Homo sapiens: one gene and its partners. The protein of the gene in region 3 purifies or fractionates together with the protein of the main gene of each other region. This does not show direct contact. Each region holds a gene or a part of one and is shown on either strand. Other genes may lie near its edges.

Region 1 (7,024 bases), on a different chromosome or scaffold from region 3:
GACCCAAATAACTAATCAGAAAAATCAAAGATGTGATACTCTTTTTTATGCCATGCATAGGTGTTATACTTGGATGAAATGAACAATATTGGGATCTCTAAGGATAAAGGTCTTAAAAGTCCTGAGGTAAAGAATCCTGCACCCATTGGTACTTCTAACTTGTCTTGCTTTTTGTCTGATTTCTGGCTGATGCAGGGGACTAACTCACTGCCACTCTAAAACTACCTGAACCAAACTATGACATCTCACCTGATATGTAAGATGCAATTGTTATAATTATTTTAAACCTCAATTTAGCATTAACTAGCCTTTTCATGTAAACACTTACACATGATGATGACTAGAAACAGCATACTCTCTGGCTGTCTGTCCAGATAGATCTTGAGAAGATACATCAACATTTTGCTCAAGTAGAAGATTGACTATACTTGCTGATCCACAACATACAGCAAGTATGAGGGCAGTTCTAAAATTACAGAGATAATTTCTCCTTTAGGAACTGTAATAAAGTTATTTTAAAAGCTAATTTGATATACTTTACCAATTTGACATCTTGCCTGTCCATGCAGAATCAAACATTTACATGCGCTAAAAGACATAAGCATCTTGGGTGCTCAAGAGTTCATCTTTGTAAAATACCACCAAGGTTAAAAGGAAGGGACAAAAAGGAAACCTCTTATCTCAGTGGGGTATTGCATAGCAGAAGCTACTAATTTAAAGTCCTTTGATGGGCAAGAAACAATGCTAGGGCCACTTATCTGAAGTGGACAAAGATTTAAGTGAAGATTTTGTCACAGCTTCCCTAGACTGATATGCTGTAATAGAAAATTAGCTAGGGGCTAAGATAAATAAGAGCTCTCTGCATGCTGAAAGCAGTAATATTAATAATAATGGTAAGAATAGTAGTCACAGGAGTTTCAGTTAATGATGCCAATAAGCATGTGCTATGCACTGAATTAAATGCCACATGTACCTTTCTTGCTTATGCACAGCCAACTTTGAAGGATATATTCTCCTACTTTTCACATATGACAACATATTGGGTGGTAAATCACGTTCCCAATGTCACACACGTAGCAAGTAAGAAAGTTAGGAATTAAACCCAGTCTTGTGTGAATCCAAAGCGTAGCTCTTTTCTCTTTATCACCCACCTACAGCTTGCCTTCATTAAAGGAAAAGTGTATCCACTTAAAACTATCTTCACTCCCTCTCTCCATACCAACTAAAAATAAAAACATCAAAATACACTGGAAATAAAAAAGGAAAAAAGCTGTTGAACCCACAGTATGTGGGAATAGCAATTAATTGTCATGTAGGGATAAGCTAACATTAATATTCTTCAAAGAAAGCAACTTAAAGCAGAGTCATTGAAAAGACAAAAGGATTTTCAACTCCTATTTATGTTTAATACAGCATATTTAGTGGAAAAGCATATAAGATACAGAGGTTAAAACCTACTAGAAAGGGTTAAAAAGTTCAATACTGAGTCATAAAGTAAACTGAAAGTTAAAGTTCAAACTTCATAAAATTAATATGAAATCCCTTTAGCTAACATAAGATCATGTAACCAAAAACATCATACAACAAATAACATCAGTCAATATAATAAGAGAAGATGAATCCTACTAAAACAGTTCTTTATGTTGCCCAGTCCAAATAATTGCTTTTCTACTTAACTGATTTGTGTTGATACTGATCACTATGTCCCAATAAGTATAATTTGATCTTATTAATTTATTATTTATGACTTGAGTGACTGCTATCAATCTAGAACAACACACAGATTAAAAGAAATAACCATACCTTCCATATCTATCAAGTGCATTTAAATTAGCTTTTTTCTTGATTAAAAATTTCACCACTTCCTGTTTTTGTTCATGTACGCCAAGCAAAAGTGGTGTGAGGCCACACTGTAAAACAATATAAAACAAAAACAATATGTAATTCAAAAAATTATGTATCTCTCAACTGAACTAGAAGCTTATGGACTTACACTCACAGAAAGTAAATAAAATTTGGTCGCTTCCTTCTCACTCTTCTGTACTTTCCCACATGCCACTCCTTCCCTTGGAAACATCCCTTCTCTGCCTCACCACATTAAATCTGATCATCTCAAAAACTCACTTTAAACATTTACTGTTTCCAAGACTCTTTGTTTCTAAATGAGCATTTGGCATGGCACTTTTGGATGATTTTTTTTTTCATTTAAACAAAAAGCTTCTTGAGGGCAGGGGCTGTATCTTTTATCTCTATTATTATCCAATCCTAAGACAAAATTGTTGTGTATAAAGCAAGAATTTGAATGTAAAATATTTCTTTAGTTTCACATGTTTTACCAAAGTTCAAGCTCCAACATGCAATAAATATTGCTATTAATACTCACACTGCCCATTTCAAGAATTTTTTCCAACATTTATTCATTTAAAATCTATTTGTATTTAATTTTTCCAGATTGTTAACTAGATAGATAATCAGTTCATAGGATTACTGAAACTAAGAGATTTCCTATCTGTATTCTTAATAACTCCATGGTTTTGAGTGTTTAAACCTGCCATCCTGATTAAGCCAAAGCTCTACAAACTTAAGAGACATACTGGATAGCCCACAATATAGCTTCAATTGACAAAAAAGGTTTAGAATTTGCTACAATTCTGAGAAAACTCTGCTCTTAAAAACGACTTACTGACCTAAGCACTTGAATGATTGAACAAAGGGACACAAAGTCCTGAGAGAGCCATCCTCTACTTATTGGAAGACTACTCACTGCAAATTTCTAAAGACCTTCTGAATGGCAGTGAATAACTGATGGTAGAAAGGAAAAGGTATTATTCTGTAAGCTGATAGATAGTGCCAATAATATTTATTTTAATGTCCCAACGACAGAGATAAGTCAGACTAGGCCAGGAATGGTGGCTCACACCTGTAATCTTAGCATTTTGGGAGCCTGAGGTGGGTGATTCACTTGAGCCCAGGAGTTCAAGATCAGCCTGAGAAACATGGCAAAAACCTCATCTCTACTAAAAAAAAAAAAATACAAAAACAGATTGGAGGACCACCAGAGCTTAGGGACGTCAAGGCTGTGGTGATCTGTGACCGCACCACTGCACTCCAGCCTGGGGAACAGAGTGAGACCCCATCTCAAAAACAAACAAACAAAAATTTAGATTAATGTTATTGGAAAGGAAAGATTTAAAGGAATTAGCACATATCCAACTCCAACTCTTCTAGAAATATCTGAAGTTTCTGAGATATAAGAATTTACATATTACACTTATGTATTCAGTGGTTAAGCAGGAGTGTATCCGGATTTTGAGAAATTTGTTGTTGTTGTTGTTAGAGACAGGGTCTCATTATGTTGACCAGGCTAGACTAGAACTCCTAAGCTCAGGCAATCCTCCCACCTCAGCCTCCCTAGCAGCTGGGACTACAGCCATGCACCACCATGCCTGGCTTCAAGGAAACATTTTTAAACATACATATCCAGGCTTTATTAGACTTACTCTATCAAAATCTTCAGGGGAAAACCTAGACTTGAAGATTATTTAAAAATTTTCCTGAAGTAACTGGAATGCACAACTCTAGCTGGAAGCTAGTGCAATAGACAATTATTTCAGTCTCATCTCTCATCACATAAACAATTCCCTTTATCATTTGAGGATTTGGCCAAAAAGAGGAAAGAGTAGGAGAGAGACTCATTTGCTGAAAACACCACAAAATTTTCCCCGGTAAGAGTAGAACAAGGTCTAGTAAACTCAAAATCCAACCTGATCTTTTTACTTATAAGCCCCTTATCTCCCACCTTCCCATCAAGACATTCTAGAATTGAAAGCAGAGTTGAGACTCTAATTGGCCATTTCTACCAGAATAGGATACTAATTTGGTTAATTACTTGTTATTCCTTCTACTCAAGGGTTTCCCACTACATTACCACATATTCACTGCCAGTCTGGTTCCTCAGAGGCCTCCTAAAATTGATCTCTAGGCAGTTTACAACCCACTAACTCCCTCTCCCAAACTGAAAACTGTCATTCTCTAAAATGGAAAAGAACCCTGTCTCACCATATAAAGGAAACAAATGAATGAACAACAATAACAACACACACACACACACACACACACACACACACACACAAACAAAAACAAAAACAAAAACAAAAAAAAACCTCTTCATGGTCTTTTCCCCCATTACCTAATTTCCAAGTTGGCCTTGGTATTTCTGATTGCTGCATTTTTCCCTTTCCAATTCTGCCTCATGAGCAATCAGAAATATCTTAAGCCTTGCCACTGAGAGATACATCACCTCATATCTATTAGTGTTTTTTTAGGAATTTGCCAAAGTAGCAGGATTACTATTCACTGAAACATGTTTAAGTTTTCTTGGAGTTTTAATGTAAAACCTATTTCCAGGGCAAATTTTGTCATTTTACATTTGTTAGGGAAAAAAAAACTTGGCAGGGAAAAATTGAAAAAAAAAAAAGTATTACCTTTTACAAATTCAGTGTTTTTTTTTTTTAAAAAGCATTAACCACAAGTGCACTGAAAAAAACTGTACCCTCTAATGCTTCTTTAAAAGTAACAATATTTAAAATAAAGTCTTAGATAATTAAGTCATTTCAAAATATTTTCATTCAGGTTATGCTTGAGCTTCCAAATACGGAAAACTGGCCCTTACACAGGTCAATGTTAACACGAATGCATTTCAGTATTTTGAAGATAAAATTGGTAGATCTATACCTTGTTTTTTGATTCAATATCAGCACCATATAAGAGCAGTGCTTTGGCCATTAATTTATCTTCATTGTAGATAGCATAGTGTAGAGCGGTATTTCCATACTCATCTTGAATATTTCCATCAGCGCCATGTTCCAGCAACATTAACACACATTCATCTTCCTGGCATTGTACGGCCTGTCAGTATTAGACCAAAAACAAATTATAAGTCCTAGGAATTCAAAATAACATTCCACAGCTTTCACCAACTAGTTATATTTAAATGAGAAAACTCATTTTTATGCTATCTATTGAAATCAAACCCATCTCACGCTGATATAGTTGACTACTGCATACCTTTATCAGAGCTGTCCTTTTTTTGTTGTCAAGGACGTTAAGTTGACATCGTCTGTCCAGCAGGAGTTGTACTACTTCTGAATTTCCATTGGCAGAGGCCAAATGTAGAGCAGTCCTATGAGAGTGAGAAGACTTCAGGAAATTGTAGTGCACTAGCTAATGCCACATTAATGATTCATGTAGTTGCAAACACTGAATAGCCTATTACTCTGCCTTCAAAACAAACTCAATTTTCCTTTGAAGAAAGCACACTACTTATTACCTCTCATTAGTCACTGTATTAATGAAAGAGCAGCCTATTTGAATAGAAAGAGCATAGCTCTTGGATGACATTCAACTTGGGCTGGAATCCTACTTGAAGCTCTGTCGCTTCCTAGCTGTTGCTTAGCCTTTTTGTGTCTCAATTTCCTCATCAATAAAATGGGAATGAAAATAGTCAGTTTCTCAGAGGAAACCACTGTAATGCTTAAATAAGACTCTACACAAAATATAGAATAGTTCCTAACACAAATAACAGCTCAAAAATTGTAAGATATTATAATTTTTACTAATACCACTAAAGACAACATTTGAATTAAGTGAAACGATACAATTATACCTACACTTTCAGGTACATTTTAAAGATTACAGGTAGCGTTGTACTGTATTTTATTGAGTCTAAGATGATCATTGTCTCCATGTTTTAACATTTCTTACACTGAAATACCACTTATTAATTCATGATTTACTATAATTATAATTGGCAGCATTTAAATAATTTTCTTAGTGAGACATAAAATAATGGGGCATCATACAATCCCTGGTGCCTTACATTAAGTAGAATATGTTATAATATAACAGGTCTGGGGCAGTTCCAGTCAGATGACTAGCATTTAGATAAATTTTAGTTCTTAAAAGAACTATGGAATAAGAGGGCTGAGGTGAAAACAAAAACAATTTTCTAAAATAATCTATTTCTTACTTTGGTTTTCAAAAACTTTAAGCCAAAGAAATCTTGAAATTCAAATGAATAGCATGGGCTCATTTTTTTCAATACTTAGATTTATACAACGTATGTACATCAGATATTTCCAATCATTCATATTAGGATTTAAGACTGTTATAAATTTTCTCTTTTTAAAATGGATTTATGAAACTATTTGTGGAGCTTTTTTCAACTTTTACATTCGGGGATACAGGTGCAGGATGTGCAGGTTGGTTAACATAGGTAAACGTGTTCCAAGGGGGTTGGCTGTACAGATTATTTCATTACTCAGGTGTTAAGCCTAGTACCCGTTAGTTCTATTTCCTGCTTCTTTCCTTCCTCCCACCCTCCACCCTCTGATAGGCCCCAGTGTGTGTTGCTTCCCTCTAGGTGTCTGTGTGTTCTCCTCATTTAGCTCCCACCTATAAGTGAGACCATGCAGTATTTGGTTTTCTCTTCCTATGTTAGTTTGCTAAGGATAATGGCCTTCAACACCATCCATGTCCCTGCAAAGGACAGGCTCTTGTTCTTTCTTTTGTGGCTACATAGTATTCCATGCTGTTTATGTACCACATTTAAGTTCTTAAAACAGCTAAAACAGTGTTTACCCAAGTCTTATACATTTTCAAAAGGGCAGTTAAGGGTTATCTTTTACTATTTTCCACCTTCAGAAGTGCTTTTGTTTGAAAGGAGGGAGGAAAAGCTTCAATTGAGATTAAGTCCTAATGCCCCAATTTTGATTCTCTCAGCTTGCTCAGGCGCAGCAGGTAAACATGAAGTTTTCAAAGGTGGAAGGATCCTGAGAGATAGCAGAATATGCTTGCCATATAATAGGTGTCTGGCTTATGTTTGATGACTAAACGGATTGAAAGAATGGATAAACATAGGTTGGAAGTTCAATATTTTTAAAAGAAAACTCCTGTTGAGTAGAGCAATACATTTGCGATAGTAACAATCATTTATATTTGCTATTTTAGTTTTCATAAATATATA
Region 2 (7,476 bases), about 110 Mb from region 3:
TCAACATGTAATCAATGTATAAAATTATTGATGGCATATTTCACTTTCTTTTTCCATATTAAATTTTTAAAATCTAATGTGTCTCTTACACTTGAGTATGTCTTAATTCATATGCTAAATGTTAATCAGAAATAATTAATCCTTAATTAGCTTTAATAACATTTACAGTTAAGTAGTAGATTCACATACTCAAGTTATCCCAGATTTTAAAAGTTTTACAATAACTCAATGGAGTATCAGTTTGAAAATCCAGATTTAAATTCATTAAAATTAAAAATTGAGCTCCTCAGTTGGACCAGCTACATTGCAAGAGCTCCATAGTCACTTATGCCTAGTAGCTACCATGTTGGACAACGAAATTCTAATTAGTTGATCATTTTATGTGAATAGATTGAAAAAACAGTACAATTCAGTAAAATGTGTTTGGCTATAATATTTTAATCCCTTATTGCAAGTAGGTAGCAAATAAATGAGGAAAAATCATTGCCACTGGAAAATATGGTAACTGGGTTAATGCCAGGGCACTACTCAATGATACCCAGTAAACAGCTTTTGTAGCCCTTATTCTAAAGGACACACACTGAACATGTGGTCAGGTGAAAGGAAACAGAACAATAGATGTGTCCATTATTACACTTTTCTGACTTTCACAGTCATGGTAAATAGCCTCGACGTTATAAGAATGGGATAAAAATCATATTCATTCTCAGATCTAGTAGAATTAAATATATAGTAAAACTGCCAAGTAAAGACTATCTATTTTGAAGAACTGACAGGTTGTTTAAATTAAGACAATACTTAAAGTATTAGAGGATACTTAAAAACTTAATATAATGTGAAAACAGTGGTTTAATGAAAACAAAATTCTTACGACAGCAAAATGCAGAATTTCGTCTTCGTTCAGTTCATTTTTCAATTTTCTGAATAAAGGTTGCATTGCTCTGCAAGGTCCACACCAGGCTTGGTAAACATCAATCACTAGAAGATGATGATATTTATGAAATAACAAAGTCTACCAATCTAGGATAGCAGTTATCCCAATCTGGAGCCATGGCCAGGGCAAAGGCACTGCAGGATTTCTTGGTCAAAGTGGGGACTCTAGAGGGACAGGGTGCCAGGAGGAGCTCCGGGTCAAACCCCAGGTGGCCAGACAGCCGGGGAGTCCTTATACCTGTTAAGCCTTTGTTCTGCAACATCTCATCCCACAGGCTTTGATTATTGATGACTGTCTGCAAAGTGGAAGGCACTGTAAAAGGTATTCAAGCACTAGTGCACCAGATAAAGAATTGTTGATATGTCAGACCCACCTGTAACTGGACTTCTCGTTTTTTGCTTGCCATTTATCTACTATCATAGGAAAAAGAAAGAAAAATTTTTAAGTAGGAAATTTAAATAACATTTTCTTTATGCATGCAAATAACATCTTTTAAAACAATTTTTAATTTTTGTGGGTACATAGTAGGTGTATATATTTATGTATCTCTGTATTTATGTACTTAAATATTTGTGTATTTAAATCTGAGATATTTTGATACAGGCATGCCATGCATAATAATCACATCAGGGTAAATGGGGTATCCATCACCTCAAGCATTTATCCTTTGTGTTACAAACAATCCAATTATACTCTTTTAGTTATTTTAAAATGTACAATTTAGATTTTTTGACTGCAGTCACCTGTTTGTGCTAGCAAATACTAGGTCTTATTCATTGTTCTTTTTTTTTTTTTTTTTTTTTGAGACATAGTCTCACTCTGTTGCCAGACTGGAGTGCAGTGGCACAATCTGGGCTCACTGCAACCTCCGTCTCCTGGGTTCAAGCGATTCTCCTGCCTCAGCCTCCAGAGTACCTGTGACTACAGGCACCCGCCACCACGGCGGGCTAATTTTTTTTGTATTTTTAGTAGATACAGAATTTCACCGTGTTAACCAGGATGGTCTCAACCTCCTGACCCGTGATCCTCCCACCTCAGCCTCCCAGAGTGCTGGGATTACAGTATTCATTCTTTCTAACTGCAAATAACATCTTAATGTACTAGTGAAAAATTTCCCCACTGTACATTGGATTATGCAGTGTCATCTTTGCTGGGGAGAGAGAAGCTAATGTCATGGAAGGACTATTGTATGCTAGGCTCTATGCTAAATGCTTATAGCTGCCACACTATCTTATCCTCCCAACAGTCCTGAAGCAAGGTAAGAATGTTAGGAGTTACACGTCGTCTGGTTTTTTTAAAGGTTTTGTTTTCCTGAAATATTAGAAAGTGTTTCCTATATTATCAATTGCAAACAAATGAACATGCCCGTGGATCTTTCTGGGGTCCCTCTTCAGATCTGGCTGCTCTAAGGATATTTAATCTTGAGAACAAGGCCACTAGTGTTTTCTGGGGCACGACATAAACTTCTCAAACTCCCTATTCAGTGGTATCAGGGGCGGTGTAGAACAGGGGTCAGTCAGCGTGCGGGCGATAGTGCACGCTAGCGTACAACAAAGGAAAAGCCACAAACAAGACTGTATTCCAGGAAAGGTGCTGGTTGCTCCGGCAAGCCTTACACAAAACAGGTCCTCCTCTAAGCTAGACTGGGACGTTTAAAGAAAAGGAAGGAACAGGCCCAGAGGATCTAAATCGGCTCCCTCGTTGTGGCCGTTTGAGCGGTGACCTCGGCGAAGTTCCATTCCAGTACCTAGGACCCTGGTAGGGCCCGAGGCTGAGGCTAGCAGGCCTCCTGCTGGGCTTTCTTCTCCAGCTGATTCAGCAAAAGGAAGAAGAGGGATTCCCTGCCTGTCTGGGAAGAAGAAGGGGGGCAATGTTTTGTCCAACCCATCTGCCCGTGAGACTTGAGCGGCGTCTCGAGGCCCCTGCTCCAGACAGCAGCTATACCTGGGCAGTGGGGACAAGACCAGGTGGCGCCTAAAATCCTCCACCTCTTCTGCCCACACAATGAAGGAACAACGAAGTCCTGGTTCCACCATCACAAGACTCTGTTCTTCAGCTGCCTCATCCCCAAACTCCCATCCCCCATCCTCCCATCCCTACGTTCCTCTATCCCCAGATGCGCACCAAGGTGCGCTTTCCCAAGTGCAGATTTGATCATATCTCTCCTCGCCTTTGAATCCTCCTGTGACTGGCCACGCTTTACAGCATAAAATGCATACACCTCAAATCGGAGCAGAAGGCTCTCTGCCAGCACCAGCCTTTTCTTTCTTTTTAACTTTGTCTTCATCTACCCTGGTTTGGTTCTTCTTGTTCTTCTTGTTCTTCTTCTTCTTCTTCTTCTTCTTCTTCTTCTTCTTCTTCTTCTTCTTCTTCTTCTTCTTCTTCTTGTTCTTCTTCTTCTTCTTCTTCTTCTTCTTCTTCTTCTTCCTTCTTCTTCTTCTTCTTCTTCTTCTTCTTCTTCTTCTTCTTCTTCTCTTCTTCTTCTTCTTCTTCTTCTTTCTTCTCTCTTCCTCTTCCTCTTCTTCTTCGTCTTCCTTCTTCTTTTCTTCTTCTTTTCTTCTTCTTCTTCTTTTCTTCTTCTTTTCTTCTTCTTCTTTCTTCTTCTTCCTTCTTCTTTTTCTTCTTCTTCTTTCTCTTCTTCTTCCTCTTCCTCTTCCTCTTCTTCCTCTCCCTCTTCCTCCTCCTCCTCCTCTTCCTCCTCTTCCTCCTCCTCCTCCTCCTCTTCTTCCTCCTCTTCCTCTTCTTCTTCTTCCTCTTCTTCTTCCTCTTCCTCTTCTTCCTCTTCCTCTTCCTCTTCTTTCTTCTTCTTCCTCTTCTTTCTTCTTCTTCTTCCTCTTCTTCTTCTTCTCCTTCTTTCTTCTTCTTCTTCCTCTTCCTCTTCTTCTCCTCCTCCTTCTCCTTCTCCTTCCTCTTCTCCTTCCTCTTCTCCTTCCACTTCTCCTTCCTCTTCTCCTTCCCCTTCCCCTCCTTCTCCTCCTCCTCCTCCGTCTCCTCCGTCTCCTCCATCTCCTTCATCTCCTTCTTCTTCTTCTTCTTCTCCTTCTCCTTCTCCTTCCTCTTCTCCTTCCTCTTCCCCTCCTTCTCCTCCTCCTCCGTCTCCTCCATCTCCTTCTCCTTCTCCTTCTTCTTTCTCCTTCTTCTTCTTCTTTCTTCTTCTTCTTTCTTCTTCTTCCTCTTCCTCTTCCTCTTCTTCTCCTCCTCCTCCTTCTCCTTCCTCTTCTCCTTCCACTTCTCCTTCCTCTTCTCCTTCCTCTTCTCCTTCCTCTTCCCCTCCTTCTCCTCCTCCTCCTCTGTCTCCTCTGTCTCCTCCGTCTCCTCCGTGTCCTTCGTCTCCTTCGTCTTCTTCTTCTTCTCCTTCTCCTTCCTCTTCTCCTTCCTCTTCTCCTTCCTCTTCCCCTCCTTCTCCTCCTCCTCCTCCGTCTCCTCCGTCTCCTCCGTCTCCTCCGTCTCCTTCTTCTTCTTCTTCTTCTTCTTCTTCTTCTTCTTCCTCTTCTTCTTCCTCTTCTTCTTCTTCCTCTTCTTTTTCTTTCTTTCTCTTTCGTTCTTTTTCTCTTTACTTTCCTTCCTCCCTCCCACTTGCAGCATCTGGAAATAATTTTTCACAATAGTTTCTGATTAATCCACAGGCTGAGATACAGAAAGCAACTGTAGAGTAGAGAGGGACACAATGAACCTTTTTGTAGGGATCCTCATCCCTGGAGTGGACCTAATAGATGAGCACGGCTACCTACAGAAGGATTTTTGACCAGGATCATATCCTATCAAGACAGGACATGTAGTACTCCTTCACTTCACCATCTGCAATTTTCTTTCCTTTTTTTTTTTTTATTATACTTTAAGTTCTGTGATACATGTGCAGAAAGTGCAGGTTTGTTACATAGATATACACATACCATGGTGGTTTGCTGCACCCATCAACCTGTCATCTACATTAGGTATTTCCCCTAATGCTATCCCTCCCCTAGCCCCCCACCCCCTGACAGGCCCCAGTGTGTGATGTTTCCCTCCCTATGCCCACGTGTTCTCATTGTTTAACTTCCACTTATGAGTGAGAACATGCGGTGTTTGGTTTTCTGTTCTTGTGTTAGTTTGCTGAGAATGATGGTTTCCAGCTTCATCCATGTCCCTGCAAAAAACATGAACTCGTCGTTTTTTATGGCTACATAGTATTCCATGGTATATATGTGCCACATTTTCTTTATCCAATCTATCGTTGATGGGCATTTGGGTTGGTTCCAAGTCTTTGCTATTGTGAATAGTGCTCCAATAAACATACATGTGCATGTGTCTTTATAATAGAATGATTTATAATCCTTTGGATATATACCCAGTACTGGGATTGCTGGGTCAAATGGTAACAAAAGCCAAAATTGACAAATGGGATCTAATTAAAGAGCCTCTGCACAGCCAAAGAAACTATCATCAGAGTAAACAGGCAACCTAGAGAATGGGGGAAAATTCTTGCAATCCATCTATCTGACAAAGGGCTAATATCCAGAATCTACAAGGAACTTAAACAAATTTACAAGAAAAAAACAAACAGCCCCATCCAAAAGTGGGCAAAGGATATGAACAGACACTTCTCAAAAGAAGATATTTGTGAGGCCAACAAACACATGAACAAAAGTTTTTCATCACTGGTCATTAGAGAAATGCAAATCGAAACCACAATGAGATACCATCTCACACTAGTTAGAATGGCGATCATTAAAAATAGTCAGGAAACAACAGATGCTGGAGAGGATGTGGAGAAATAGGAACGCTTTTACACGGTTGGTGGGAGTGTAATTATTTCAACCATTGTGGAAGACAGTGTGGCGATTCCTCAAGGGTCTAAAACCATCTGCTATTTTCAAAGAAGTTTTATGTATTTCCTATAATTGCTATTTCACCAGAGTCAGACTGTTAGTAAACTGACTTTTGATTCTTCTTTGATTCAACACAATAGTTCACATGGTGAAATGCTCATGCAAATATTTCAGGCAAATTCTTCATATAACACTTTGATGCAAGAAGTTTCAATGTATTCTCAAATTAGAACAAACATTTACCAGTGGCCAATACATGGAAGGAAGGTGTAATTAGTTTTTTTTGTTTTTTTGTTTTTTTACATCATTACTACTAATTGCAAAAACTTTGAATGTTGAGGCTTTAAAACATAAACCTGAAGAGCCTTTGACTTGGGTCTGCCCAGAATTGACTTTAAGGGCAAATTCTCTGAAAATGTTGGTTACAAGACAATGTATATTTTATTATAGGAGAGTGTAAGCTATAACTGCCAAAAAGCCTATGAGAGATGTTACTTTTGAAGGGACCTAATAGTTTGTTTTGCTCCTTAAATATATTTGACTTTATCTTTCAACATTCATTAAAGGTACTCTCTTATATTGACCTGCCTTTTCTTACCCTCACACAGCACTATGTATAGTGCTCAATTTGCTTTCCTTGGGGCACAAGTTTATTAGTGCCTAATTGTTTCATTTGTGTGTTCTCATGACTTCTAAATATATATGAAGACCCAGAAAATAAGAACTGGATTGTAGAATTGTTTTCGCTTTGCTCTCTTCCTCTTGAAATCCTCTCTGGCACCTAGCATCACCATTTTTGCATAAACACTTTAAAATTAGATAGCAAGCTAGTGCATTTGGAAATAGCAGATATTCTTGACACATTTATGTACTCTTTAATGAAGATAAACAAAATTCTTAATTTTTGAATCCAAGAAATCTGTCTGGTGATTTCTCAAAGAATTTAAAATGGAGAGAGCTACAATTTGACCCAGCAATCTTATTGGATATACACCCAAAGGAAAGTAAATTACTCTACCAAAAAGACAATGCATTCATATGTTCATCACTGAGCTATTCACAATAGCAAAGACATGGAATCAATCCAGGTGCTCATCAATGGTACACTGGATAAAGAAAATGTGTATATAAACATATACACCATGGAATACTACGCAGCCATTAAAAAGAATGAAATCATATCCTTTGCAGCAACATGGATGCAATTAGAGGTTATAGTCTTAAATGAATTAATGTGGGAACAGAAAACCAAATACTGCATGTTGTTCCTTGTAAGTGGAAGCTAAACACTGAGCACACATGGACATAAATATTGGAACAATAGACCTGCAGATTACTATAAGTGGGAGACAACGAGGGAGACGTGGGTTGAAAAACTACTTACCAAGTACTATGCTCATTACCTGAGTGATGGGATTTGTACCCAAAACCTCAGCATCATGCAATATTCTCATGCAATAAATCTGCACGTGTACCCCTCATTTCTAAAATAAAAGTTGAAAAATATTTTTAAAGTTTAATAAAATAAAGACACAATGCTTAAAAAAAGAAGAAATCTGGTCCAGGTAATTAAGTAGACTATAAAGAAAATAAATGGTATAGGGACTTACTTTAATTTTATCACTTCAGCTAGAGATAGAAGTAAGCTAGTCATCTATCCAGGAGAACTTTATATAACTTTTAAAAAATTTCTCCTATCTCCACTAGATCAAAATCACGGATTCTGAATTCCAA
Region 3 (7,280 bases):
CAACTAGCTGGTCCCACTGGGCAAAGCTCCGGCCACAGTTGCCGCATATGAAGGGCCGGGCCTCCGGGGCGGGAGGGTGGCACCGCCGCAGATGAGCTCGAAGCTGCTTTCGTCGCCAGAAGCGTCTCTCGCATTTGGGACAAGCGATGGGCCGCTTTGCAGCTGAATGGGCCCGCAGATGCAGAACCAGGGCCACCCAGCCTCGGAAGCTCTGCCCACAGAGGTGGCAGGCAAAGCCCAGGTCTGGGGTGGCAGCAGCATGGACCTGGCGGTGCAGTGCTAAGAAGGGGGCATGGCGAAAGCGACGGCCACACTCAGGGCAGGGCAAGGGCAGCCGGGCCTGGCACCGGCGGGTGTGAAGCCACAGAGCCACCCAGCCAGGGAAGTGCCTTCGACAGTGGGCACAGCGATGGGCCCTGCCTGGGGCTTGGGCACCAGACTGGGCCACTGACGTGCCTTGTTGCCTCAGCCCGCGGGACTCCTTCCCCAGGGTCTGGGGTGACTCCTGGGAGGGCCCAGAAAGGAGTCGGGGCTGGGCCAGGCCCATGGCCAGGGGGCCCCTGCAACGACGTTCCAGCATCGGTTCTTCCTCTGCTGAGGGTGGAAAAGCACAGTCACTCCAGAGACCAACTCACTCTGCCCCTGTTTCTCCCCTCCCAACCTCAGCCCCGGACAGGAGCTGCCATCTATGAACCCCTAGAGCCCCGGACATGGAGCTAGACTACTCTCCTGTTTCCTTGTGTGGTATGTATTATTTCAATCTTGGGTTTTTAGATAACATTTCAAGGATGTTTGTCTTATGTCTTTGTTGCCCTGGAAACTTCCAGAAGGGAGGGACTCTGATACTAGAATCCCCCTCATGGCAGCTACCCCAGTGTCAGACAGGGAGTAAATGCTCCAGTGCTGAATGCACAAACATTCCTGCCACAGGACTCACCAGAAAATGTGGCCACTGCTCCCTACAGTGCCTTATGCTGCCCTCTCCCTGTGTCTGCTGTTTCCTATGCCACATCCGAGCTGCACAGCAACTCTGAGAAGCTGGACAAACAGACACTGAGCTCCCTGTTTAACAGATGAAGCAACTGTGAGACATCAAAGATGACGAGACCTGCCCAAGGTGACACAGTAAGCCAACAGCAGAATCAAGACTAGGGAACAGGTCTTTAAACTCCCAGGCCAGTGTTCTTTCCTCTAAAGCGCCTGGGTTTGCAAAGATCTCAGAGAAAAAGGTGTCTATAGCTTTTCATTCCTAGCCCCACAGGGGAGGCACTTTCAGCATCACTAACTGCAGTCTCCGTAGGAGGCTGGAGGACAAGTGAGAACAGCCCTTCTCGGGGAACAGGAGCAGAGCCCTGGGTGCTACTCCCGGCAGTCTAACGCCAGACCACCGCCTGCCCAGACTGTGCCCCCATTCTGCCCGCCTGCCCTCTTCCACCCACACAAATTAGGACATTGCAGGAAGGAAGGCTCTCCCTGAATCCAAGGAACACCCACAGCCTGCTGCCCTCGGGGCCTGATCACCGGCTCTGCCTCCCTCGGGGTGCTGGAGATTACTGGGGCAATAGAAGGGGAGGGAAGATGAGACTGCAATCTCAGTCCCCTGCCCGGTCCTGCCCCAACCTCGCCAGGGGCTGCCCCATGTTCAGCTCTTCCACAGCTCAGGGGAGCCCAGATTCCTGCACAGGAGCCTCCTCCGCGGAAGGAGGAAGGAAGCAGTTAGGCTCCTAAGGGCCCTTCTGTGCCTGCTCACAAGCTCCAGACACATCCTTCTAAATTCCCTAGAGCGCACTCTCTCTTCTCAGGGAACACAAAGGTCACTCATTCCCAGTGTCAGACTGTGCACAGGGAAGACCCCAGGATATGAGAAAGGGCCATTTCCTTCCGCCGGGATGGGGACGCCCGTGCACCCCTGTTGTGGCGTGGTTTGGGAGCACAGCAAAGGCCAGACTCTACCCTGGAGACTGCAGAGCTGGGGATGAGGCTTTTTCCAGCTCCTCTTGGGGATGTTCCTGGGGATACTTCCGCGGCTGCAGCGCCTGCTTCGGCCCACACTCCGGTAGCCCCCAGGTGTTAGAGAAAACTGCAGTAATAAAGACACCCCTATCCCCATGGCAGAGCTCAGACCTCTGACTGCAGAGAGGCCAGCCTTACCTGTGGGGAGGGAAGAGAAAACAGAAGTGAGGCTCTGAGCTCCTCTAGGGCAGTCAGCTTTGTGTCCTCACCAGCCACAACCCCTCCCCCCACAAAGCCACACGCACCAGCCATAAGCCCCACATCCTGCCTGGCAGAGTGACCTTAATGGACATTGGATTAATAAATGAATGTGCCCCTTCAACAAGGAAGCACACTGCTGTCTTTCGGGGTCACTTTCTTCCCTGGTAAGGTCACGGAACGAATTCTCCATTCTGTGGCCAGAGTCTGGGCTTTCCCTGATGGCCAAAGGCCGGCCTATGGCAGGAACTCTGGAATCCCTGCTGGCTCCCCTTCCCCCAGCCTCCTCCCGACAGGAATTCCAGGCCTATTTCCCATGGGGCTGCGCAGGGCCAGCTGGTGTGACCACGACTCCGTCAGAATCCCCTTCCGCATCGCGGCTGGCCGCGGGTGGCAGAAGCCCCACACCGCCCTTTTGTACTGATGCGTGTCCTCCGTCCACGCTCCCGGGCACACGGGTCCCGTTCTTGCGAGTGAGCCATTTCGGGTCCCACGCACGGCGCAGCTCGCGGAGCCTGTGCGCAGGTGCGCTCCCCCACCCCCGCAGATCCAGCAGCGTCCCCCCCCGCGCACTCACACACGGTCGCGCACACTCACGGTCACGCGCCCCGCAGGTGGAGCGGCCCCCCGCGGGCCCGCGGTGGCCCCGCGCCCCTGCCCCGGCCGTACCTCTGCGGCGGGCTGTGCAGGGACGCGGCGCCCGTCCATGGAGCCCGAAGGCCGGCCTCCGCGGCCCACTCTCGCTCCCCGCCCCGCCGCGGCGACAGCGGCAGGTTCGAGTTCACAACTGCCAGGCCCGTCCCCAACCTCCCCCCGCCGGGTTCCCAGCGCCACGTGACTACAGGAGCTGCCGAGGGTCAGTCGCCGGCTCCCGCGGCCGCGGCCTGGGGGCGGGGAGGGACTGCCGGGGCCGGGGCGCGGGCGCCCCCGCCAAGAGCGGGCCGGGTCACTCAAGCCACTGCCGCGCCAGGGCGGCAGGCCTCGGAGGGTCGGACTCCGTTGCCATGGCGACCACCAGCCCGGGTTTCTCTGGGACTGGCCGGAGCTCAAGTTTCCCGACCCTTTGTCCCTGCGGAGCACGCGCGTCCCCGGGCGACCGCGTGGCTGGCCTATGGTCACCGGGGTGTTCGGCCTTAGCTGCCTTATGAGAGGCTGGGAGCCCGTCGGGAGACTTCAAAGAGGGCTCCGGCAAGCCCCCGGAGCGTCGTTGCCCGGGCCTTTCTCAGGCCGCGCACCCCGGCCGCAGTGCGGACGCTTGCGGCCGCGGCGGTCCCGGGACGGCGGTGGCGCACCTGGAAGGCCCTAGCTTCCGATTTGTTCCAAAGTGGAGCACAAAAAGGCCCGATCCTGCGAACTTTGAAAAGGCCTCTCTTCACTCTTTTCTAGAAATTAAGAAAGAGCAGAAGTTGCTGGGCTTCCTCTGGCTGCGGGCCAAGCGTGGGGCGACGGCCGAGGTGGCCGTTGGCGCACGTGGGGCATTTCGCTTGGAAAGGCTCAGCAGCCTGTGTGGCGTCTGCGGTGGCAGGTGCGAGCCTGTGCCCATGACTCACCCACTAGCAGGTGGCCCTGGCTTTCCAAACTAAACACTTCCTGGGGTTTCCAGGGTAGTACAATTTCATGTACTTTCATGCTTTTCAACACAGGCAATTTTTGAATTGTATAATTAGTCGTAAAAATACTTTTTAAATCTATTGCATAAATAGGAAATAGGGGAACATAAAACTCAGTTTTACCTCGTAGAGTCAATTACATTTAATATTTTGGTATGTTGCCTCCGGTGTTTTCTCTACGTATATCCATGGCATGTCTGGCATAATTGGAATAATGCCTTGCGAAGATGTATTCTGCCTTCTTCACTTAACACGATCTTGTGAATTTTCTTCCATTTTATTAGATATTCTTTTAAACATGATTATTTATGGCTGTATAAAAGGAATATATTTTTTAAATGTTTTCTAAATTATCTTCCAGGAAAACGTATTAGTTTTCCCTGAGAAATGCCCATTTTCCATATACTTGACAACACAGACTTTTTTAAAAAAAAAATTTAGTTTGAAATGGTTATTTCTCATCTTTTGTACTTGCATTTCTTAGAGTACTAGTTAGCTGGATTGTTTTTTCACATGGTTATTTTTTGCCAGTTTTATTTTCTCTTGTGAATTTGTTTATGTCCATTTGCCCACTTTTCTATTTGCCCATTTTAAAAGTTGGGGAGTTGGTTTATTGTTTGGGGGGCACTCATAAAGTACAGGTATTAAAGACTTGTCATGTTTGTTGCAGACGTGTTTCCTCGTACTTGTTAACTTTTTTTTTTTTTTTTTTTGAGACAGGGTTTCACTCTGTCACCAGAGCTGGAGTGCAGTAGCACTATCATGGCTCACTGAAGCCAGGACTTCCTGAGCTCAAGCAATCCTCCCACCTCGGCCTCTGAGTAGCTGGGACTACAGGATCACATCACCACATCCAGCTAATTATTTTATTTTAATGTTTTTCTTCTGTAGAGATGGGGTCTCACTGTGTTGCCCAGGCTGGTCTCAAACGATCCTCCCGCCCCAGCCTCCCAAAGTGTTGGGATTACAGATGTGAACCACTGCATCCGGCCTACCTTTTCAGTTGTTGATGTGAGAAAGTTTTGCTTTAGTCTATGTGCTGCTGAAGCGAGCATAAGAAAGTTTTGTTTTATTTTTATTTTATTATTTATTTATTTATTTATTTATTTATTTATTTATTTATTTTGAGATGGAGTCTGGCTTGTCTCCCAGGCTGGAGTGTAGAGGGAGGTGTGATCTCGGTTCACTGCAAGCTCCGTCTCATAGGTTCTCGCCATTCTCCTGCCTCAGCCTCCCGAGCAGCTGGGACTACAAGTGCCCGCCACCACGCCCAGCTATTTTTTTGTATTTTTAGTAGAGACGGGGTTTCACTGTGTTAGCCAGGATGGTCTCGATCCCCTGACCTCGTGATCTGCCCGCCTTGGCCTCCCAAAGTGCTGGGATTACAGGCATGAGCCACCGTGCCCGGCGAGAAAGTTTTGTTTTAATGTGCCAAAACTTAGCAGTCTTCCTTTATGGTTTCTGCCTTTAGAGTTATGTTTAGAGAGGCTACCCGCAACCTAAAACTACATTGAATGTCTGCAGTTTTATCACAGAAAATAAGTTTTGGTAGCTGGTAGTTTAAGTACTTCCCCTACACAAAGATTCTGGGTTTTTTTATTCTTCATAACTTCTTGGCTAGAATCACTTCATTTATTCTTCCAAACTGACATGGAGCCGGCACCCCTCTTACAGGCCTGCAGGAAGTGGGGAGGGGGCAAGCATGGAAATAAAGGAAAATCTTGAATTCCTTCAAGGGAAATTCCAGGCACCCAGCTAGCAACCTAATAAACAAGAAGGTAACTGTAGCTTAAAACAAGGAAGTTACAGTCACAAAATGTTTGGTTCCCTATAGAAACTAAAGATAACATCTTAATATATGTCCCTGAGTTGCTCTTCAGAAACCTGGGCCCCCCTCCCAAGTGGATGCCCTGGCCTGCAGACCTCAGACAAGAGGGAACTGAGGACTAAGCTCTGCTGTTCTTTGTTCTAAATTTCTTCCTGAGGATCCTGATGGAAGTTGGACCAGACCTGAACATTCCTTTCTGCTAACCCCAAGGTTTTAGGCAAAGCTTTGCTTCCTTAACTTATCACAAATCAGAGTCTTTGAATTCATGTATGACCTTTAAGGCTCCTCCTTCAAAATACCCTGCCCTTTGAGGCTAAACCAGTGCATAACCTCCATGTATCAATTCACGATTTTGCCCATAACTTCTCCTTTCCTGAAATTTACCCCTGCTTTTAAAAACACTTGCTTGTGGCCGGGCCCAGTGGCTCATGCTTGTAATCCCAGCACTTTGGGAGGCCGAGGTGGGCGGATCACAAAGTCAGGAGTTCAAGACCAGCCTGGCCAACACAGTGAAACCTCGTCTCTACTAAAAATACAAAAATTAGCTGGACGTGGTGGCAGGAGCCTGTAATCCCAGCTACTCGGGAGGCTGAGGCAGGAGAATCACTTGAACCCAGGAGGCGGAGGTTGCAGTGAGCCAAGATCATGCCACTGTACTCAAGTCTGGGCGGCAGAGCTAGACTCCGACTGGGGGAAAAAAAAAACCTTGCTTGTAAACCATCGAAGAGGTTGTATCTTAAGTATGACCCACTTCTCCTCGCTTGGTGCCCTGCAAATAAATGTGCTCCTTTCTCCGGATGCACAACCTCAGTGTTGGTGTTTCCTCTTACTGCGCCGGGCAAGTAGACCCCAGTTCAGTTTTGTAACAAAATGAACTTTAGAATTTCTTGTCAATGTTTTAAAAACGTGATTGTCTTTAAGATTCATTCTCTCCACTCCATTCATTCAGGTCTTATTTTACCTGTCCCAGTCAAGTTGACTAATCTGTACATTAACTACTTAACTTTTATACTTTTTTTTTTTTTTTGAGACAGTGTCTAGCTCTGTCACCCAGGTTGGAGTGCAATGGTGCAATATCAGCTCAGTGCAACCTCCGCCTCCCAGGTTCAAGTGATTCTCCTGCCTCAGCCTCCCTAGTAGCTGGGATTACAGGCACGCACCACTACACCTGGCTAATTTTTGTATTTTTAGTAGAGATGGGGTTTTGCCATGTTAGCCAGGCTAGTCTTGAACTCCTGAACTCCTGACCTCAGGTGATCGGCCCACCTTGGCCTCCCAAAGTGCTGGGATTACAGGTGTGAGCTACCGCACCCAGCCCAACTTTTATACTTTATAAAATAAAATTCACAAATATGAAAAAAGTCTTTGTCATATCATATAGTTTGGGGGTTCTGAAAATATGGTTATAGCATATTGTGGAATATAGGCCAAGTTTAGTAGTTACGGAAGAATGAATTTTTCTACCAACAGTACAATAAGAAGATGCTCCAGTTTTTACCTAAATACTTAGTAATTTATTAGTTAACATTTTGGGAGGCTTTACTTTGTGTCAGGCATGGTGATAAACTCCTCACATACATATCTCATTTAATCCACTCAACAACCCTATGCAATACTCTTCTGGTCCTTAT
Region 4 (7,024 bases), on a different chromosome or scaffold from region 3:
CGAAAGAGGGTGCTGCCGCATCCGGATCCTCGCCAGCATGGCACTCCAGAAAAGAAAGTAATGGCGGGGGTCAGGGGGGTGGTCAGAGACACAGGGGGTCCCCAGACTGCCTAGCACATACATACATACCACTGGGGACAGTACAGAGGGGAGCAGGTCCGCCAAGGTTAGAAACCAAGAGACACAAATATTGCACATTCAGTCAAGGCATTTCCAAGAGAGTCACAGAAATAACTCTCTCTGAGACACAACATAACACATTTGGCAACTTTCAAAGAAACAGCCTTCCCCACTCCAAGCCATCAAAGGGTCCATAAGTGCCTTCATCTTTGGTCCAGTTGAAAAAGCCAGGGAAGGAAGACAGGGTCAATGGGGAGTAAGAAGAGGCTGCAGGTGCAGTTCCTACAGCTCCCACTTGTCTGACTCAGTGCAGGATGCCGCCTGTCTCAAACCTCTTCTTGGAGGGAAAACAAGCTCTCCAGAGGGTCCCGGCTGCTGGAGAAAGGTGAGGCAAAGCTGCATGTGGTGGCAGCCGGGAGCCCCAAATCCAGAGCAATGATCACCAACCTCCAACCACAACAAAGGACACCCCATCCTCCCTTTCCTTGGAGGCTCTATTCATGGGAATGCGGGGTACTCTGGCAACTCTATGCTTTACCTAAAACCTCAATTCGACAAACTGCAGCTAGAACCCTTTGCATCTGCTGCACGTCTTGGAGGGTGCATAGGAGGGACGGTGTTCCGAAGCAGCTGCTAACGTCCATTGTGGCACACATAGGGTGAAACCATGGCACGGCACGGGAACAATCCTCTTGGCTCCAGCGTCCTTAAAGTACAGGCCATTTCCAAGGAGCTAGGCCTTCCGCCCTCATCCCCCAGATCCCCGAAAGGCTCCGACTGGGAACCCAGCCCAGCTGCTGTTGTAAAGATCTGTTCTAATACTGGCTAAGCAAATGAAAGCAGGTTTCTGAAAAGGTATTCTGCAGCCAGAAGTCGCACTGTCTTCGGAGTCCTGCAGGTGGGGAGGGAGTTCCTTTAGTTTTGACCAGAACACTTCTTCACAGGGGGCCAGGATCAGCTGTGCTTTGCAGTGGCTCGGTCACTGGACAGGAGTGAGGTTTCACTTCACAGAGGGGCTCTGCTGACTGCTCTCCTGAAGGTCTGGAGTTTTCGGGGTCTTAGTTTACATCCGCGATCCTCTCTCCTGAAGAATCTGAAAGTTGGAGATGGGGGAGAGGCTGAGGCTGCTGAGGGAAAGACAGAGATGTCGGGGGATGCTTTCCACTGGACCCGATGAGTGGCATGATGGTCCTGTCATCCCAGGAAGCAAGCAGGGGTGCAGCCGCAGCCTCACCCGCAGTGCTTCTGGTGCGAAACACTCTCTTGCTGGGCACAGCTGGGTCTAAAGCTTATATGCTGTTGGACCAAAGCTTTGCCAACTGAAAGGAAGTGGTTCCAGCTTACCTGGTATCCACGATTTAGAAGCTGTGTGTGTGTGTGTGTGTGTGTGTGTGTGTGTGTGTGTGTGTGTTGGGGGTGAGGGGGGTGCACAGTGGAGGGAAAAGAAACAGTTTTCCAGGAACTTAAGGGAGGTAAAGGTCACCAAGGTAAGAAAACACCCTTTTCTCCTGAGGCAGTGAAAAAAGCACAGTTTTAAAGAATAAATCAAAATACCTTCCAAGTCTGAGTTCAGAAATCCTACCCTGTAGTAATTAGTGGCAACCAGCTTTTCTTTTTCATTGATTTGGCAGAGGATGGAGAAAGTCTACCCTTTTTAGGTTCATATTTTCTAACTAAAAACACCTGTCAGTGCTCCGTAAATCCCAATTAAATTACAACAGTCAAAAATAACAAAACGAGGGGAAAATGCAACGCTGGCTCTAGAAGGCCAGGGAAGAAGTGAGGAGCAAGAGTTCAGGAAAAGCCCACGGAGGGGGTGCGAACAAGCAAGCCAGAGGCAACTGCCCAGGGAAGGGGCTCCTTACCTTCGCCTTTTCGCTCGGCTCTATGACGATGCCATTGGTAGAATTATTTAGTTCTCTGGAGACAACACAGAGGAATTCTGCCTGATCCTCATTGCCGTAGTTATAGGAAGATCCGATGCTGATGAGCTGATGAACCAAGAATACAGTGAACATTCATGTGGCAATCTTAACATACTTTCGAAAGTGCTACACAAATCACCCCTCTTCCGACTGAACTTTTAAGTTATCAAAGGTTTAACTCTTTATATGAGTTCTCTGTGACTACCAAAGCCCCCGGGGAGAAATGGGCCTGTTCTTCATCAGGGCATCATTGGTGAGGCCTCCCCAGGAGGAAGAGTATGAGCTCCACTGTCCCCTCACCCAAGCTCTGAAGTCCCCCCCCGTCAGCGGCAGGATTAACATGCCCACGCCCCGTCGAGCACAGCAAGGGAAGACAGAACGCATCTGCCAACAAAATGGACATTTGCCTCAGTCACACACACAGCTGGCTCCTCTATCAGCAGAAGCCCTAGACTGGGGACAGGAGGCTCTGGAAAGCACCGAGCCAATCACTGATCAGCTACTGGAAGTCATATGCTGCTGGTACTTTTTATTTCCAGACAGGGTCTAGCTCTGTCACCCAAGCTGGAGTGCAGTGGTGCAATCACAGCTCACTGTAGCCTCCACCTCCTGGTCTCAAGTGATCCTCCCACGTCAGCCTCCTGAGTAGCTGGGACTACAGGGACTACAGCCACCATGCCTGGCTAATTCTTTTATTTTTGATAGAGAAGGGGGGTCTCGCTATGTTGCCCAGGCTGGTCTCCGAACTCCAGGACTCAAGCAATCCTCCCACCGTGGCCTCCCAAAGTGCCGAGATTACAGGTGTGAACCACCGTGCCCAGCATGCTGGTACTTTTAACCTTTTTGGATAATAGAATTCAGAATTTAATTCTAAAGAGGAAATACACACGCAGGGGAGCAGCTCAGGCAGAGGGTGAGGGCATCCCAGTGAGCAGGCGAGGCCTCACATGGGCGGCATGGCTGACTGTGGTAGGATGGGGCTGGGGGCGCCTCCGCCTGTCTGAAACAAACTTCCTCATCCAGAAGGGAGGCAATAGGAACACCCTCCGTCTTCCCACGGGACAGTAATAAGATGAGAAATTAACAAGAAATTATTCATTTTAGTTTCACAAAGAATACATTAAAAAAATCCTTTGCTTAAGAGCTCATATTAGGAAAAATACTTCTGGAGTGGAGGGCATTAAACTCTTGGCGACGTTTTACAACCCATGCCCAGTAAGAACCAGGATGACAGACACAGGCAGAGTGGATTCCGTGGTGGAAGCTAAGTGTGAGAAATAATCACCGCTGGCTCTGAAGGCAGAGACAGCTTTGCACTTGATCTGTGAGATAACAGCATTAATGCAAAGTGTGAGTTTTCTTTTAGAAGGTAAGCATCTGGTGAGACAGCTGTTGACCTGTTAAAACTCTACACATAAGTAGGCATAATCCGTATAAAATCATATTTACTCAGGCGGTTGATCCCAGGGTGGCGAGTGGCGGCGACCGAGACCCTGAGTGCAGCCTGACCCGCCCTCGCACGCGCGCCCTCCCTGGCCGGGCCCACTCGCCACGCGCCCAGCCATGAACCTGGCGAGCCAGAGCGGGGAGGCCGGCGCCGGCCAGCTGCTCTTTGCCAACTTCAACCAGGACAACACAGAAGTGAAAAGGGCATCAAGAGCAGCTGGTCTTGGCTGTCGCGCTGTTGTCTGGTTAGTTCCAACCCTGGTTTCTGAAAGTATCACCTTGGAAGGCTTATGTTAGAGGACTTTTTTGGCTTTTTGAAATTGAAGTGAACCAGTTAATAAGTGGCAGAGGATCACTTGAATGTGAAATAGAAATATCAAGGACTACATTTTTCCAGTGGACACCACAGCTTGTGGGAAGTTAGTGATGTAGCAATGTCTGTTTTAAATGCCATGTCTAAAAGGGATGGAATGAAGAAAGGGATTTGACTTTCCAAAAAAAAAAAAAATTGTATTTACTCTATTCGCTCTGGCCTTCCTATGTTTTGAAGGCAACAGAATTTAACAAGTCTGCCATCTAATGGAGGAGAACAGTGAAGCTCCAACTGTCATAGCTTTGTTTTGATAGCTCAGTCGTAAGCACGAGGCGGAGAGAAGTAGGGGAAACGGCCGCACCACACTTCCCATGGCGCCTGATCCTTCCTAGCACAGCTGTTCACCAAGCTCTTCACGGTGGATTACATAAGACATTCAGAACCAAAAAGTTCTGACCCTGGGAAAAGAAATGGAAGGATTGTTGTCGAATCCCAGTCTCCTTTAGGGACTCATTCTACGATCCCTGTGAGGGAACAAAAACCAAAGGCTTTGAGGCACTTCAAGCCTAAACTGCTCGTTGGCTCCCCTGGAAAGTCTGCGTGTGAAGCTAAGACATGATGCTCCTCTGTTTCCCCAACTCCTCACGCACCACTAGGCCAGCAGTGCCCACCAAATGGCTCTTTGCCCATGTTTTGGAATAGGATCCCACCTGGCCGTAGCCGTCTCCCGTGGTTATTAATTGGCCATCCACACTGATTGTTTGAAGAGCTGCAGACCCCTTGAACGGGGCCTGGGATTGCTGCTCTGTTAAGAGATGTACCTGTTCGAATTTCCAGCCGTCGGACATCGTGGACACCATCTGCGTGAGCTCTTCTTCCTGACACTGCAGGACTCTGTACACGTGCTTCACGGGGCCCTGCAATGACCAGGCGCAGACTGAGAACAGCACCAAGGACACCACAGTTTGCAGCTGCCCCAAGGAGGCTCTTCAAATGAATAAACACTGAAAAGGAGTTTGCTTGGAAATCTTTTCTTGGCAGCCACCCACTATCCCCTTTTACAAATAGTACTGTGGCGTTTCTTTTTTTCCCTTCTCTTTAAAAAATGTTTTTCTTTTTAAGTGACCACAAGCCAGCATACTGTGGCTTTTCAATAAAAACATATCCAAAGAGTGAAAGAATAAAAAAGGTAAAATAATTCTGAACTTCAGAGGGATGAATGCTTGAGCAACTATGCCAACAAACTTAGATTTAATCCATTTCCCCAAGTCAAAAATAAGGTAAAATTATTATTATTTATTATTATTATAATTTTATTTATTTATTTTTGAGACGGAGTCTCGCTCTGTCGCCCAGGCTGGAGTGCAATGGTGCAATCTTGGCTCACTGCAGGCTCTGCCTCCCAGGTTCACGCCATTCTCCTGCCTCAGCCTCCCAAGTAGCTGGGACTACAGGCACCCGCCACCACGCCCGGCTAATTTTTTGTATTTTTTAGTAGAGACGGGGTTTCACTGTGTTAGCCAGGATGGTCTCGATCTCCTGACCTCGTGATCCACCCGCCTCGGCCTCCCAAAGTGCTGGGATTACAGGCATGAGCCACCGCGCCCGGCCTATTTATTATTATTTTTTAAGACACAGTCTCACTCTGTCGCCCAGGCTGGAGTACAGTGGCGCGATCTCAGCTCACTGCAACTCCGCCTCCCCGGTTCAAGCGATTCTCCCGCCTCAGCCTCCCGAATAGCTGGGATTACAGGCGCCTGCCGCTAAGCCTGGCTAATTTTTGTATTTTTAGTAGAGAAGGGGATTCACCATGTTGGCCAGGCTTGGTCTTGAACTCCTGACCTCATGATCCACCTGCCCTGGTCTCCCAAAGTGCTGGGATTACAGGCATGAGCCACCGCACCCAGCCTTATTATTATTTTTGAGATGGAGTCTCGCTCTGTTGCCCAGTCTGGAGTGCAGTGGGGTGATCTTGGCTCACTGCAACCTCCACCTCCCTGGTTCAAGCGATTCTCCTGCCTCAGCCTCCCGAGTAGCTGGGATTACAGGCATGTGCCACTACGCCCAGCTAATTTTTTATTTTTTTTTCCTTTTTTTTTTTTGAGAGAGTCTCGCTCTGTCGCCCAGGCTGGAGTGCAATGGCACCATCTCAGCTCACTGCAATCTCCGCCTCCCGAGTTCAAGCGATTCTCCTGCTTCAGCAGCCTCTTGAATAGCTGGGATTACAGCCGCCCACCACCACGCTTGGCTAAGTTTTGTATTTTTAGTAGAGACGAAGTCTCACCATGTTGGCCAGGCTGGTCTCAAACTCCTGACCTCAGGTGATCCGCCCGCCTTGGGCCCCCAAAGTGCTGGGATTACAGGCATGAGCCACTGTGCCCAGCCAATTTTTTTGGATTTTTAGTGGAGACGGGATTTCGCCATGTTGGCCAGGCTGGTCTTGACCTGAGGCGATCCACCCACCTAGGCCTCCCAAAGTGCTGGGATTACAGGCATGAGCCACTGTGTCCGGCCGACAATGCTGTATTTTTTCTTCTATGTTTTCTTCCAAAAGAGGTATAACGATCGCCGGGTGCAGTGACTCACGCCTATAATCCCAGCACTTTGGGAGACCGAGGTGGGCGGATCATCTGAGGTTGGGAGTTCAAGACCAGCCTGGCCAACATGGTGAAACCCCATCTCTACTAAAAACACAAAAAATTAGCCAGGTGAGGTGGCACGTGCCTGTAATCCCAGCTACTCGGGAGGCTGAGGCGGGAGAACTGCTTGAACCCCGGAGGCAGAAGTTGCAGCGAGCTGAGATCGCGCCATTGCACTCCAGCCTGGGCGACAGAGTAAGACTCTGCCTCGAGGAAAAAAAAAAAAAAAAAAGAGGTATAGCTATCATTAACCAAAGTACTAAGGATTTCAAAGATTTCCTTCCATATTACATATAGTACAAATCCTCTGAAGATTTTAATTGGTTGTAACCACTTATTTTGGAAACCAATTGTATAAGTACAAAATTCAGAGTATCACAAAAGATCTGTGATGTTGGCCACAGCTGTCAAAGTCCCAGGTATTTAAGATGCCATTATACTGCCTCTTTTTTCTCCCTTCCAAAGTAAACCACTTGTGCTCTCAAATGCACCAGGATCAATCACCTACAAAAAATACTATTCTAAGAAATAGGAGTCTGGGTATGGTTGCTCACGCCTGTAATCCCAGCACTTTGGGAGGC

The links.
Region 1: the proteins of REPIN1 (region 3) and POTEB2 purify together in Homo sapiens (affinity purification with mass spectrometry, with the first as the bait; 2 studies listed by BioGRID). This does not show direct contact.
Region 2: the proteins of REPIN1 (region 3) and NME8 purify together in Homo sapiens (affinity purification with mass spectrometry; 2 studies listed by BioGRID and IntAct, with this or other methods). This does not show direct contact.
Region 4: the proteins of REPIN1 (region 3) and KCTD2 purify together in Homo sapiens (affinity purification with mass spectrometry; 2 studies listed by BioGRID and IntAct, with this or other methods). This does not show direct contact.

The regions. Positions count from the first base shown.
Region 1 is NC_000015.10:20,856,308-20,863,331, forward strand, and holds part of POTEB2 (POTE ankyrin domain family member B2), read right to left. Parts: intron 5,183-7,024; coding exon 5,068-5,182; intron 4,909-5,067; coding exon 4,735-4,908; intron 1,911-4,734; coding exon 1,804-1,910; intron 467-1,803; coding exon 329-466; intron 1-328.
Region 2 is NC_000007.14:37,844,131-37,851,606, reverse strand, and holds the start of NME8 (thioredoxin domain-containing protein 3), read right to left. Parts: upstream 3,011-7,476; 5' UTR 2,879-3,010; intron 2,784-2,878; 5' UTR 2,551-2,783; intron 1,348-2,550; 5' UTR 1,341-1,347; coding exon 1,308-1,340; intron 1,230-1,307; coding exon 1,172-1,229; intron 979-1,171; coding exon 872-978; intron 1-871. UniProt on the Homo sapiens protein: Probably required during the final stages of sperm tail maturation in the testis and/or epididymis, where extensive disulfide bonding of fibrous sheath (FS) proteins occurs.
Region 3 is NC_000007.14:150,364,542-150,371,821, reverse strand, and holds the start of REPIN1 (DNA-binding protein REPIN1), read right to left. Parts: upstream 3,001-7,280; 5' UTR 2,920-3,000; coding exon of another isoform or gene 2,881-2,919; exon of another isoform or gene 2,789-2,880; intron 2,733-2,788; exon of another isoform or gene 2,152-2,732; 5' UTR 2,111-2,151; coding exon 1,954-2,110; exon of another isoform or gene 595-1,953; coding exon 1-594. UniProt on the Homo sapiens protein: Sequence-specific double-stranded DNA-binding protein. Binds ATT-rich and T-rich DNA sequences and facilitates DNA bending.
Region 4 is NC_000017.11:75,057,207-75,064,230, reverse strand, and holds part of KCTD2 (BTB/POZ domain-containing protein KCTD2), read right to left. Parts: intron 4,722-7,024; coding exon 4,626-4,721; intron 2,112-4,625; coding exon 1,986-2,111; intron 1,214-1,985; coding exon 1,184-1,213; 3' UTR 1-1,183.